2 linked regions of the Homo sapiens genome follow. The protein of the gene in region 1 interacts with the protein of each later gene in a biochemical or structural test. Each region holds a gene or a part of one and is shown on either strand. Other genes may lie near its edges.

Region 1 (7,023 bases):
AGTATATAAGAGTCATGGAAAAAGACAGAGAAAAAAAACAGACAAATCAGTTGTCAGTATCCATGGCCTCTGATTCTGTCTCAACCATGAAACAGAAGTGTTCAACATATACCTGCTAAAAAGCTTAGGAAGATGTAGGCTCCACAAAGGAATGTAAACAGCAACGAGATGTGGAACAACAGCAGGCTTTTCCATTCAAACTTTGTCATTTGTTTCTTTAAGTTCAAGAAAGACAAAATCTACACTGAAATCCTTGTTTGGTGAGCTCACAAGCTTTTCTCCGGTAATTTCTTGTAACTGTCCAGTATAGATTTTTAACATACTTAAAACTCCTATTAGTCAAAGGTCAATTGTGGGCTTCACTACAACATTTTATAAAATGTATTCCTTCCTCCCACACCTCTTCAAAATATATTTCTTCAAAGAATTCATAACACCCAACAAGTAGAGATCCACAGTGATAATAAATGCTATGTCTAAAATGACTTAACTGAAACAATTCCAGAGTGCCATCAACAGAGATCACGCAAAAGGAAACATGGCACTTTCAACGTTCTCTTCTGGAAGAACAGGTAGGTCTTCAAAGCTTGAGAGTTCAAACAGGGGCCATTTAAACAGGTAGATTATCAATGGCTAATGTATTCAATGGAGTCCTATAGGCAAAGATATTTAGTGATTAAGTGGTCTACATACACCTTACGGCTTTTTCTTCCAAATATCAAATATAAGAAAGCCTATTTTTAAAAGTCTCTTAGGTATTTTCCACAGTTTCGGAATTATCTGTAGGAAGCTCTGACTTACTTGTATAGAGTTTAATATATGTGTCCACCATTAAATCCAGGTCGTGTTTTATATCAAAATTTATGTTAAGCAAAGCCAAGTTACTTGACCTTTGGTCTGTCAAAGTGTTCCTCAAATATGCTTTAAGACGCTTTCGTCCATTTTCATACCGCTCATTCTCAACCTTCATCACAGGAAGAATACACAGGACCTTCAGCAATGCATACACATTAGGAAAAAACTTGATGTCAGGCAGGTGGAGGGCTTCATAGATGGTGGACGGAAGCTCTATATCTTTCCCCCTGTGTTTCCATTTGATTCTCCAACAATGAAGCTCAGCTGACAGCGTGTCAGGATTGGGTAAGTCACTTCTATACATGTCAGCATGGTGTTCCTCCGACGTATTGAATTTGAGTTGTCCCATGACTGAGGGTACCAGAGATAAGCATTTAAGAGCTTTGAGGTGCTGTTCTGAGAATATATCTTTAAGTTCCTGAATAATGTGCTCCACTGTTGGGACACTTAGGGTTTCTTTATAGTAACTCTCAGAGGTTAGCTGAGATTCCAAGTTACCCTGGTGAGCTCTGCGGAATTTCCCAGGGAGTTTCATTTGAATATCAAGTTTGGTTGCCAAATTTGTGGCTTCCTCAAACCAAAATTCATGATAAACTTCAATATTTTCCATCACTTCGTTGAGTGAATGCAGTACTGCAGTCAAGCTACCGGCCGCAAAGAAGACATCAGAGGTTTGCCCCTGGAGGTTTTTCCCAAAGGCTCTTGTAAAAGATAGGACATTTTTAAGAACAACAATAGTAACAATGAAATCAAAATCTGACACTGCACTGCAGAGTACAAATGCTCGGCCAGCTATATAGTTATTCCATCTAATATTTGTGTCACTATTTATACCATCTAAACATAAAACAAGTGCTTGCAGGAGTTCCACTAAAATTTCAAAAGCATCATGCCTGCCTGTCCACTGAGAATGGCAGATTTCCTTCAGTTCTTTACCCCTTTCTTTACTGTTCTGAAAAAGAACAGAAATTACGTTGTCAAGTTCTAAAAGCAGTTGTGGTGATCGATGGAAAAAAGAACAAACTTCCTCAATTGTTCCTAATGCAACAGATACTCCCATAACAGGTACTGATTTTGCCAACCACATATTTAAGGCACAGGAAGAGCAGAGTGTGTAGATAGCTTGGGGATATTTCTCTAAAAGTCTAGAAGCAACAACTTTCATTTTGGAAGAAAATCCACTAGAGACAATGTAAGCCTGGCCACGACAATACTCCATATTTAATCCCCACTTCTCAGTTATCATAGTGTGAAATTTCACAGCCAAAATTTCTGCATCGGCTTCATAAGGCAGGAAGCCTATAAATTCCTCTCTTAGGTTATGAGATTCATCAACAAACCTCACCAACACAGGTAGGTGCTCTTCCCCTGCTATGTCCACTACATCGTCAGTGATAATGGAAAAGAAGTGTGAGTCTCTCACTTCCCTGAGAGTTTCTTCTCGAATACAGCTCTCACAGATCTCTAGCATCTGCCTCTGCTGTGTTTTTGAACAAAACAACGTGTTAACTGCTGTTGTCTCAAACCGCTTTCTCAGAACCTCTTCACCAGAATTTATCCGACACTCCAGCAGTGCCTGAAAGTTATCTGGAGTAAAGAGACCTTCTGGGATTTCATCAGCCTCATGTCCATCCAGAGGTATGTTTTGCTTTCCCATCAGAATCAAGATTTCAAATAGAGATTTTAGGTATTCTTTGTTTTCCTTCTCTTCAAGGGTTAGAGGTAAAATGTCCTCATCTTGCCCTTCACCCTCTTCTTCGCTGGGGTTCTGAGCATTGCTATTGTTGGTTTCTTTATGTTTTTGTTCCTGCTCAGAAGTTTCATCAACTGGAAAACAAAGAATTAATTTTACAAACAGGCTCATGAAAAACCATACACAACAAAAAATATTACATCTTTGGTTAAATATTTAAAATCCACAAACTCATTCATTCAATATTCATAGGGTATTTACTAGACCACAGACTAGGACAGAGATTAAAATAAGACACTAAGATAAGACACATCCTAGTGGGAGAGACAAACAGTGTAAAGAGATATATTTTAATCCTAGATGTAAATGCTGTTACAAGATAGGAATAATTTTTTTTTTTTAAGAAGTAGAGCGGGGAGTCTCACTATGTTGCCCAGGCTGGTCTTGAACTCCTGGCCTCAAGTGATCCTCCCACCTCAGCTCCAAAGTACAAGGATTAAAGGTGTGAGATACCACATCCGGCCTAATTTTTAAAATACACTTAACAAGACTTTCCACATATGTAATGAATGACAGTCCATGCCCTCAGAAAAACAAAGTGGGACAGAACTAATTACTAAGGTACTGTGCTTAGTATTTTATATGCATCACATTACTCTCTGTTCAGGCAGGTGGTATCGGCCCCACTTGACAAACAAGGACACTAAGTAACTTGCCCAAGATCACAAATACAGTTAGAAGAATGGAAGTAAAGTTGAAATCCAAGTGCGTCTGGCTCCAAGATCCATGCTGATGCTGTTTTTATCAAACCATTATGCCACACATTTATATGGGAGATGGGACAGCTGTACAAACCAGTATAATATAAAGGAGATTAATGTAACTCTTAGGGCTAGTATTAGAATATCACACATCTTAGCCTAATCTCTTCACAGGGGATAGGAAAACTGAGGCCCTACAGGCTAAATGCCCTGCCCATAGTCATACAGGTCAGTGGTGTCTGCAGGAAAATAATCCAAATCTGAGGAGGCACAGTTAAAACCTAGTTCTTAGAACATAAGACTAGGGCCGGGGGTGCAGTGGCTTACGCCTGTAATCCCAGCACTTTGGGAGGCTGAGGTGGGTGGATCACGAGGTCAGGAGTTTGAGACCAGCCTGGCCAATATGGTGAAACCCCATCTCTACTAAAAATACAAAAATTAGCTGGGCGTGGTGGCACATGCCTGTAGTCCCAGCTACTCGGGAGGCTGAGGCAGGACAATTGCCTGAACCCAGGAGGCAGAGGTTATAGTTAGCCGAGATCGTGCCACTGCACTCCAGCCTGGGCAACAGAGTGAGACTCCGTCTCAAAAAGAAAAAAGACTATGGAGGGCGGTGGGGAGAAACAAAAATTCAGAAGTTGCATTTGATGACAAGGATAAATAAGGGGGACATGAACAAGGAGGGCATTTCAGTTGGTGAGAATTATTCTAGCACAAGCACTAAGGTAGAAGAGGGAAGCAGGCTGCCCAAGTACAAAGGGAAATCTAGTCTGACCGGAGCCTGTGTGAGCCATGCTTCAGAGCTTCATAAGGGTTCAGAAAAATGCAGGGAGCATCCTTCCTTCACCCCTCCTCAAATCAGATGACACTGCTATTCATTATATGTGACACAGCAGTGGTTCTATACTAGGGAGGCTTCCCAAGCCAGAAAGCAAGAGGTTATCCTGGACGCCTGCCTGTCTGGCTCCCTCCCTCTCTCCTCCATTATTTCTCCACTTCCAATTAACAAGTACTAATTCTCTTGCTTTTATTTTTTTCAAAAAGAAGTTCATTAAAGAGCAAAGAGTTCAAACTGAAAAGTCAAGTCCCTCTTCTTTTGGACATCTTTTTAGGTGTCATAGGTATACAAATTTCTTAAGTTCCTTGAATCTATTCCCTTTACTCTCTCTACCATTGCCTTAATTCAAGGCCTTTCAACTTTTATTTGGTCAGTTGACAGTCTAACTAGCCTCCATGCCTCCAGTGTTACCTTTTCTAATCCAACAGAGTACTCTATGTACCATGGAAATCAGGTCCCTGTTATCACCTACTTATAAACCCCTCAGTGGTTCCCTATTGCTAATAGCCCACAAGTCTGCAAGTTCTGGCCTCTGGGGTCCTCTCTAGGCTATTTTCTAACCATAATGGGTTATCACAAACTTTAACAACACTAAAATGAGTGTAGTTCCCCAAAACAGCACCCTGTTTCGTGCACAGAATACCTTTCCCTCTCTTTGCCCAAGTCCATATCTCCTCATCCATAAAGAGGGAAATAACAGTACTTATCTCACGGCTATTGTGAGAATTAAATTAATTAATACAAGTAAAGCACTTAGAACAATGATTTGGCATCAGTAAGCACTCAATAAAATGCTACGTTAATAATAACAGCAATAGGAGGAAGAAACAGAGGAGGAGGAGTAACTAATAACTGACAAGAAGAAAAACAGCTTCTAGCCCTCGTCCTTTGGTGACATAATTCGGACATCAGCACCTCCAGAAAGGCTGTTGTGACCACTACTCACAATGGCACTATGTGCCCCCACAGCATTTAGTCCTTAAACATTTACAAAGAATTTATTACATACCACAACTGGGTGGACAGAAAAAGAGATTCAGTGCATGCCTCTACTGTTGCCCTTCCTTCCCTACAATGGAGCACTGTGTGCCTGCCACCCCTACCACACTGAGAGAGGAGGCGTCACCTCCATGAGGCCTGCATATAGCATAGTGTGTGGCATTGCAGCACTCAATAAAGACAAACTAAAATTAGACTTTAGTCTCATAGATAATTCCAAAACACAGGACAAAATTGAGCACACTCCTACATTCATTCTCAAGGTAGGTTTTCAACACAGAACATATTTATTTGTCCTTACCAGGTCAAGGCCTTTTTAAAAGGCATTCAGAAGTTGAGTCATTAACACTATCACTTACTTTTTTTCTGTTTCAGTGTCCTGATTTCATCTTCACTCTAAATGTCAAGAAAAAAAAAGAAAAAAACAAATCATCTTTAAAAAACTGACCTCTAGTGTATCATCTTAGACTCACAAATACAAATGCCTATTCTGAGTCAATTTAATTCTTTCAAGAGCATAAATTCTTTATATAGTACACATTCTTCAAACAAACAGACAATGAGAAAACCAGAATAAGCTGTTAATGACTCCAAGGTTATAACAAAGTCTTAGGGAAAAAAGAATACATCATTTTGCTTATTTTCTACCTAAATCATCGTAACTTTGGGTTATAAGTGTTTACTGGCTAATGAAAGGCACAAAAATACACCATGGCACTTGGAGTTAAATTCAAGAGGACACAAATCATCTTACTTCCCAATTTAACCCTGGAGATGTCCCATAAGAAGGAGGTTGCTGAATCTCAGGACTCAACACAAAAGTGATGAGAAATCCCTGAGAAGCAGAAGGTGAAAGTACCAGCATGGAAGAGATACACAGAGCATACACAGAGCATAGTAGGCCAAGTGGCACCAATAGGGTTAGACAAAGGAAGAACTTTCCAGCTGCATCCTTTACTTTCCTTCCAACCCTCTACAATGCTTAAATCATGAGCCACCTGTTACTTTCTGTGGCAGAAAAGCAGCAATGCCAGTGACAGCTGAAGACAGCAGGATGCCTGTTGGGCAGCACTGGACATGGTGCTGATAACAAGAAACATCAGCAGGCTGGTCAACCTGGACATCCCCTCCTTATCCTACGGACTGCACGTTTATAAGGATGGTGGGTCAGGAAGAGTATGCCTGCTGTGAGATATGTGAGGCTCTCTGAGGGACAGACTACAGGGAAATGATAGCTACAGGACAGCAAGTGATTGAGCTCCTCATCCTGATACATATTACACTTCATATCTATGGATTTAACCAACCATGCATTGAAAATGCTGGGGAAAAAATGGATGGTTGTATCTATCTTGAACATGTACAGACTTTTTTTCTCATTCTTCCCCTACATAACGTAGCATAACTATTTACATAGCATTTACATTGTAGTAGGTGTTACAAACACATAAATGTATTAAGTATCATAAATAATCTAGGTATTATTTGAAAATGGATGGTTGTGCCGGGCATGGTGGCTCACGTCTGTAATCCCAGCACTTTGGGAAGCTGAGGCGGGAGGATCACCTGAGGTCGGGAGTTCAAGACCAGCCTGACCAACATGGAGAACCCTCGTCTCTACTAAAAATACAAAAAGAGCCGGGCGTGGTGGCACATGCCTGTGATCCCAGCTACTCGGGGGGCTGAGGCAGGAGAATTGCTTGAACCCGGGAGGCGGAGGTTGCGGTGAGCTGAGATCGCACCCTTGCACTCCAGCCTGGGCAACAAGAGCGAGACTCTGTCTCAAAAAAAAAAAAAAGAAAAGGATGGTTGTGTCTATACTGAACACACAGATTTTTGTTCTTGTCATTATTCTCTAAACAATGTAACAGAACAAC
Region 2 (7,436 bases), on another chromosome or scaffold:
AAATGAAATAACTTCCTTATCTGTAACATGAGAATACTAAAGCAGATACTACTAAAGTTTTCTTTCTATTCCAAAAATTCGATCTCATCTAGTGCTTTAGACTTCACTCTTTCAAACGCCTTTGAGAAGGGAGGGTGCCAAAAGACTCAAACTTTCAATTCATGATATATACTTTCTGTCTCTGGATGACAATTAACAGAAAAATCTAGAAGAAAACAAAGGCAAATATTTCAAAATCAGAAAAACACTAGGTTATCTCTTCCCCATCCTGTGCCACTCTTAGTTCCACATTCACTTCTCTCATAACCATTCTCCTTCATTTCTTTTTTTAAAAGTGAATTGTATTGTATATATTTGATGTTTACAACATAGTATTATGAGATATACACACATAAAATGGTTACAATAGTGAAGCAGATTAATAAGAGTGAAGCAGATTAATATATCTATCATCTCACATAATTACTTTTTGTGTGACAAGAGCAGCTAAAACCTACCTATTTAACAAAAATCCTTAATACAACACAATTTTATTAAGCCTCAGGCCTAGCAGTAGCACCATTTGCCTTTCAGAGAACTATGAGATTAGTGAATCCAGACACAATTTATTTGGGAAAACAGGGGCTAACGGTTTGCTAATTCAAGTCAGAGTTCTTACCTTTATATCCCTATCACCAAATCCAGTGTCAAATACATAGCAGACACCTAATTTAACTCCTCTATATAATTTATTACACCAGTGGTTCTCAAGTGTGGTCATCCAGGGTCTTTCTAGAAACGCAAAATTTCAGGTCCCATCAAGACCTAATGAATCAAACTCTGTAAGTGGGGTACAGCACTCTGTTTTAAAAAGCCCTCCATGTGCGATTCTGATGCACACTCAAGTTTGAGAACCACTGTATTAAACCTCCCAGGAAATAACCTTCTTGTTAATTACAAAAAAAAAAAAAAAAAAAAAGTGCTGATTTTTTTTCTCAGCTGCCATCACTTAAAAGTGCTTGGACTCACATGATGTTGTCAACTACTTAACTTCTGTCTCCAGCGTGCACACAAAATGAACTTTAGTAAAACCTTTGGAGCCTCAGTTCCCTGGTCTGTAAAGTAGGAATGAATACCACACGCTTTCGTGAATAAGATATGGCTTACAGAAAGGCTCCTTTCTTTCCTTTTTCTGTTACCTGTACTAAGTCCCTGCTATTTTACACAGACAATGGTCCTAAAGAAGACACTCTGGCACTCCTCTGAGAAATGTCACCAGTGCCTCCTACACAGAAAAGCTCTCAAATGTGGTTTTCTTATGGAAAATACCACAGGAGGGAAATGAAGAGTTAAGAGTCCTTACAGACTCATATACAGAACAGCAATTCTAAAAAGTAGTGGGAAAAGCAATCATTCAAAATTGTGCATCTCTGTAACTTAAAAAAAAAAATCACCATTAAACAGAACATAGGCAACTTTCTCTTAAGTGTCCAAAATAAATTATTAATGATAACTGGAGATAAATACTACAGATGAGGGATGGTGGGGTGCGGGGGCAGGAGGAATGAAGCTTTTGAAAATGCAAAAGAACTAGAATATATGACCCATATTAAAGTGGTACAGACCTTCAAATTCCAATCCCCTAGATTTTTCTGGGGGCAGCCTCACTGTCAAATTCTTTGTCCCAATGTTGCCACACTACGTGTTCTGATTTGGGGTTCAAAAAATATGGTTACCAGGGGAAGCAAAAGCAAAAGCCCATTGCTATGGGTGACACCTAAAAACTGGGGAGTACTACTTTAAAAAAAAAAGTTGAGAACTTTCAGAAGAATTCACTATAAACAATTCCCAATTTTTAGTTCCTCGCTCCCTTTGAATGGAATACTCAAAGGTTTAATTTGACCTCCTTGACAACTAGCCCTTTTTATGGGGATGAAAATAGATCAGTGCATGTGATGTGTCATTACACTCGAATATTTCGCACAGTAACCGCGCCAGAAGCATTCGTTAAATCGGCACTATCAACTTTAATTCTTACTCCTCCCCGCTGCCATCTAAGATAGGACAGCCCTCTATTTTCGCTATTCTGGAGTAGCCAACATTCCAGTCTGCAGGACTGAAGTGAAATTTAATCGTTCGTATCTTTTTAAGGGAACCTTTTTACAGCGAACTTGGAAAAGTAATGCCAGCCATACGTTGAATGACACCATGTTGGGAGTTGTAAAACCACAAACTCAGTGCCTGGCCGTCCGGGAGATGGAATTCCAACAGCGGCTCCTCATTGCACCAAACTAACAATTTCTCTACACGACAGTGCATCTTAATGGGGATGGTTACACACTTTTTAAATAGTCAACACTGTCCCCTCCAACTCCCAGCCGGACATGACACTCCTTCCCCACCCAAGAACTCCAGAGCGAAGGAAGTCTTTTGGCCACCTTAGTGCCTCCTCCCAGCCAGCACCAATGACTGACAGTGTCCCCAGGCGCCCAGCGAGGGTCCCAAGCGAGGCCAGGACCCAAAGGCTGCCCAAGTCTCCGCGTCCCAGGACTTCCTGAAGTCGTAGCCCGGTGCCCCCGCACCCCGCCTCCTCCGACTCCTGCGGCCCGGTTCCTTAGTCCAAACCCGCTGTCCCGGCCCCGCGGCCCGCCAGTCCCCTCGATTCTTCCCCAGACAAACCCGGAACCGGGCGCGGGCTCAGGCCCAAGCCAGGCCGCGGGCTCCCCCAGCGCTCGCCCCACCTCCCGAGCCGCTCCGGGACAGGCGCCCGGGCGCAGACGGGAAAGCGCGGGGGGCCTGGTCCGGGAGCCCACTTCCTGGCCGGGGCAGGGCAGGACTCACCTTCGTACTGCAGATCCACCAGGACTAGCAGGAAGGGGAATACCGAGCCCAGCCGGCTGGTCACGGAGCCGGGGGCCACCATGTCCGAGGGCTCGCGAGTGAAGAGGAGGAAAGGTGTGTGGCCCACCAGCACGCGCCGGCGCTCCGGCAGCAGCTGCGCCCGCCCGCCGTCGGCTCTCGCTCAGGCCTCAGTGGCTCTGGAGCCCAGCAGAGGAAGGCAGCGGTGGGCGGGGCCCGGGCGACGCTACGCCCCAGAGCGCCGCCGCCATCCAATCGCCTTCTTTCTGGCGGCTTTCCTCCCGGGCTCGCCGGGGTCGTGGTTCGCGCTGATAGGCTGCGGAGGCCGCCGCCCCGCCCCGTCCCTGATAGGATAACGTGGAAGCACGAGACGAGGCTGCGCCCGCCGGTCGCAGAGCTGTCAGCAAGCTCCAAACCGCGGCTGCCGCCCGGAGGGAAGCAGACGGGGAGTCGGTGGCGGCCGCCGAGTCCGCATGCGCAGGCTGCAAAGGCCCTTTTGGGCCGGTCCCGCCGCGCTAGGTTGGCGAGTGGGACTATTTGATCCTTTCCAGGTTCGCCAGCGTGGTGTTACGAGAGGAAAGCGCAGCCGCAGCGTACGAATGGGAAGGCCAAACACGGTCCCGGGGAGTCTGAGGGAAGCTGCAGGGCGCCTGGAATTGGGGTCTCGAGTGAGCCGGTAAAAACCGCCTCCCGCTGAGCGTCCCGGAACAAATACTGTCTGAACTGAGCCGTAAGCAAGAAACGGTCAGGAGAAGCTGGGGCGATCTGATGATTAGAACATTTCAGGGACTACCAGAGAGAAGTGCGTAATTGCTCTAAGGCAGGTAGGTAATTGGCCTGGAAACTTGGGAACGCCCCGCCCCCCACCCCGACTTTCAGCAAACCACCGTGCCCAGGAAAAAGAGCGATTGTGGAAGACCCTGTGAAGAAGAGACCAGGAAGGCACTGTGGCTTAAGAGAGCAAGGCGTTCCTGAATGCAGCCAACATCAACTGGTAAACAAAAAACTGTGAGAACGGATCCTGAATCTTGCGCTTACCAGGGGAAATTCAGGAGAGATATGAACCTGAGCAAGATGAGGTTGAAGTTACTCAATGCGGCATTAAGCCTGTTCACGGCCACTTCCTCCGGCGTCACCAACACACACACTGTACACCAGCAGTATTTTTACACGGGGTATGTGTGTTAAGTACTATCAGGTGGATAATTATTACTTCACCTGTATTTGCTGCCTTGATACCATTAGAGAAACTCATGAATTATAAATAGCATAGTGAATTTGTGATTCCCTGAAGATATACTAAGGTGGACTTTTAAAAAGGCTTCTATTCCAAAGGGAACTAATATGGAGGAAATGGTTTCGAGAAAGAAAAAAGAAAAAACGGAGTCCTTGATTAGTTGTGGGGAAGGCAACATAATGTAATGTGAAGAATAAAGGAGTCAGATCCAGGAAACCCCATAACTATTATGTAAGTTATCTTCATCTGTAAAGTGGTTAGGATCCTGATAGTCTCAAAGGTTTGTTTTGAGGTTTCATGAAGCAGATAAATATTCTTGTAAATTGTAGAATGTTATACCAGTGTTACTCATTATTCTAACAAGAGCAGAGTAGTGAAGAGAGGCTCCTTCAGAAATTCCTTGGGATTTTTTTTTTTTTGGCTTCTGTTTTTTTATATCACAAGGTAGTGTCTCTGAAAAATGGTAGATGATTTCAATGTCCACAAATATGCAGGTGTAGACATTCAATTGAGGTACTGTACCCAAGGCAGCCAGCAAAATGCTGAACATAGAAAATAACTTTGTAAACAAAATGCAATATTTCTAGACAGTGAGTTATCACCAGTGTGCTGCCTATGACCCTGGCCTTAAGGAAAAAGTAGCAGAGCTGAAGAAGTTCTAAGGATGGAAATTAAAAATTATTAAGGAGATAATAGACTTCGTGTTATAGGAAATAAAAATAGCAAGGGTCTTCAATGGTGAGTGATTTTGAGATTAATTACATAACTATGAATTCTGTAATATTAGAACTAAGCTTTACAAAGCATTCCTTAAAAAAAGATAATTTTACAACAAAGGTAACATTAGACAGAAAAAAATGTACAAAACTAAAATTAAGTGATTAATGCTTGGGAATGTTTCCTCCAATGTTCATCTAGTCATGGTTTTCACGAATCACTCTTGCCAATAAAACCGAAAATCAAAGTAATCTAGTGAGTGTAAGAAAAGTTACTGTAAATATGTTTGCATTCGTCAGACTCTATGGAGTCTTTTTGAAGTTAAACATTAAATCTCCACTGTAATTCATACTGTTAATTATAGTAGCAAAAGACTTAAAAAACAATGGTAGCATATTTATGATATATCCAAAATTAAGAGTATTATGCAATTTTTATTAGGTTGATCTATGTTTATTGACTAGGAAAAACAATGTTGGTAGAGAGGAGTGAACAGATCTAGAACATATTTTGTAGGTAAAGGGAATAAGATTTGTTTAGGAATTAACTATGAGGAGAAATAAATGTTCAGAAACAAGTAGAGCACTTATAAACACCTTTTTGTGCCAAATTAAGAACAAAAAAGTCAGCATTAAGTTAATGCCACCATATACATCCTTCCACATTTATGTTTACAAACTTGTGCTTTTATTTCTAGGAAACATTTCTAGGCTGGGCGCAGTGGCTCACACCTGTAATGCTAGCGCTTTGGGAAGCCAAGATGGGAGGATTATTTGAGGCCGGGAGTTTGCGACCAGCCTGAGCAACATAGCAGGATCCTGTCTCTGCAAAAAAATTTAAAACTAGCCAGGTGCGGTGGCTCGTGCCTGTTGCCCTAGCTACTCAGGGAGACTGAGGCAGAGGATTGCTTCAACCCAGGAGTTTGAGGTTGCAGTGAGCTAAGATCATGTCACTGCACTCCAGACTGAGCAACAGAGTGACACTTTATAAAAAAAAAAAAAAAAAAAACTAGGTTTTTGAACTTGCTTAATCAAAGAATTTGTTTAAACTTTTAAGATGCGTTGTCAGATTATCTTTCCCTAAAGGAATAATTTCTATTCCTATCAGCTGTTTATATTCCTGCCTAGTCACCATCACTAGATATAATTGATTTTCAGTTTTTGCCAATCTGAGGAACAAAAAATGACCCTTATATGTCAAATTTACAGTTTATTTTCAAGGATTTTGGGATTCTGATCAAATTTTGGTACCTTCATATAAAATTTGGCTTTTATATCACATCTTGTCTTCTCTGCTTTCCACCCTCTTTTATGTTGTTTTTTGGCTTCTGGCCGCATGACTATAATCTCCGCTTTTGTATTCACATCACCTTCTGTCATTTTTGACCTTGCCTCCGTCTTACAAGGATCCTTGTAATTAATTATATTGGGCCTGCTGAGATAATCCAGGATATTCTTCCTACTCAAGTTCCTCAATTTAATCACATCTGCAAAAACTGCCTTTTGCTATAGAACAATGACAGGAGATTAGAATGTAAACATATTTGGGGGACCGTTATTCAGCTTAACACAATACGTCCCCCTTCATCAGGTGGAGCTTATTTTCCCTCCTTCCTTGAGTGTGGGCTGGACTTAGTGACTAACTTCCAAAGAACAGAGTATGGAAAGGGAGGAGGAGAGTAACTTCATAGTACAGAAACCTGGAAACACTGTCTTGGCCAGGTGGTCAAAGTTAATATCATCAAGTCATGTTGATAGCATATACTCCCAATATACTGTGATGAGAAGGGCAATTCACCTCTGTGGTATTCTCAAAACCTATAACCCAATCTAGTCTAAACATGAAAAAAAAAAAATCAAACTAAAATTGAAGGACATTCTATAAAACACCTGATCAGTATTCCTCAAAACTATCAACGTCGTGGGGAACAAGGAAAGATTGAAATACTGTAACAGACCAGAGGAAACTAAGGAAACTTAATTGATGACTGAATGCAGTGTGCTGTGTTGAACTGGATCCTAGAGAAAATAGACATTAGTGGAAAAACTACTGAAATATGAATAGTCTCAAGTTTAATAGTAGTGTACCATTATTACTTTCTTAGTTTTGACAAATGTACCATGGTTATGCAAGATGCTAACAATACAGAAAAATAAGGGGTATTTGGGACCTCCCTGTATTATCCTTATGCCCTTACTTGAAAGTTGTTTCAGCAATAGAAGTTTATTTAAAATATTGTGAAGGGCCTGAGTATTTTTAAATCAACTGCAGTGACTCTCTTTTGTGTATTTGTGTACAGATGAGTTTTTCTGCATCGAATTTTATCTCCTTTCCTTGCAGAAGAAAGAGAATTAGCCCTTTACAGAGATAACAGTTGCCTAAGCCAGCTCTTTTCTCCTCTTTTTGATGTTCTTCTTTTTCTCTCAGTTTGAAAATTGTAGGTTATTTGAGTTTTTAAAATGTCTATTGCTACATACACATTCTAGTTATATTCTAGTCCAAACAATCTAGTAAAATATCTAAAAGAAAAATGCTGTTCACTGTATTTTTTATTTTTAAAATGTGAGTGAGTGCATTTAAATAATAGGTTGTGTTATTATAATTATGAGCTAAAAGTTTTGAAGTGTGATTTAAAGAGTCTTTA

Evidence for each region. The genes of interacting proteins can lie anywhere in the genome.
Region 2: the proteins of THAP12 (region 1) and DNAJC3 form a complex in vitro, tested with the Homo sapiens proteins (2 studies listed by BioGRID).

What each region holds. Positions count from the first base shown.
Region 1 is NC_000011.10:76,350,113-76,357,135, forward strand, and holds part of THAP12 (52 kDa repressor of the inhibitor of the protein kinase), read right to left. Parts: intron 5,543-7,023; coding exon 5,506-5,542; intron 2,683-5,505; coding exon 752-2,682; 3' UTR 1-751. UniProt on the Homo sapiens protein: Upstream regulator of interferon-induced serine/threonine protein kinase R (PKR). May block the PKR-inhibitory function of DNAJC3, resulting in restoration of kinase activity and suppression of cell growth.
Region 2 is NC_000013.11:95,672,722-95,680,157, reverse strand, and holds the start of DNAJC3 (dnaJ homolog subfamily C member 3 precursor), read right to left. Parts: upstream 3,020-7,436; 5' UTR 2,903-3,019; coding exon 2,821-2,902; intron 1-2,820. UniProt on the Homo sapiens protein: Involved in the unfolded protein response (UPR) during endoplasmic reticulum (ER) stress.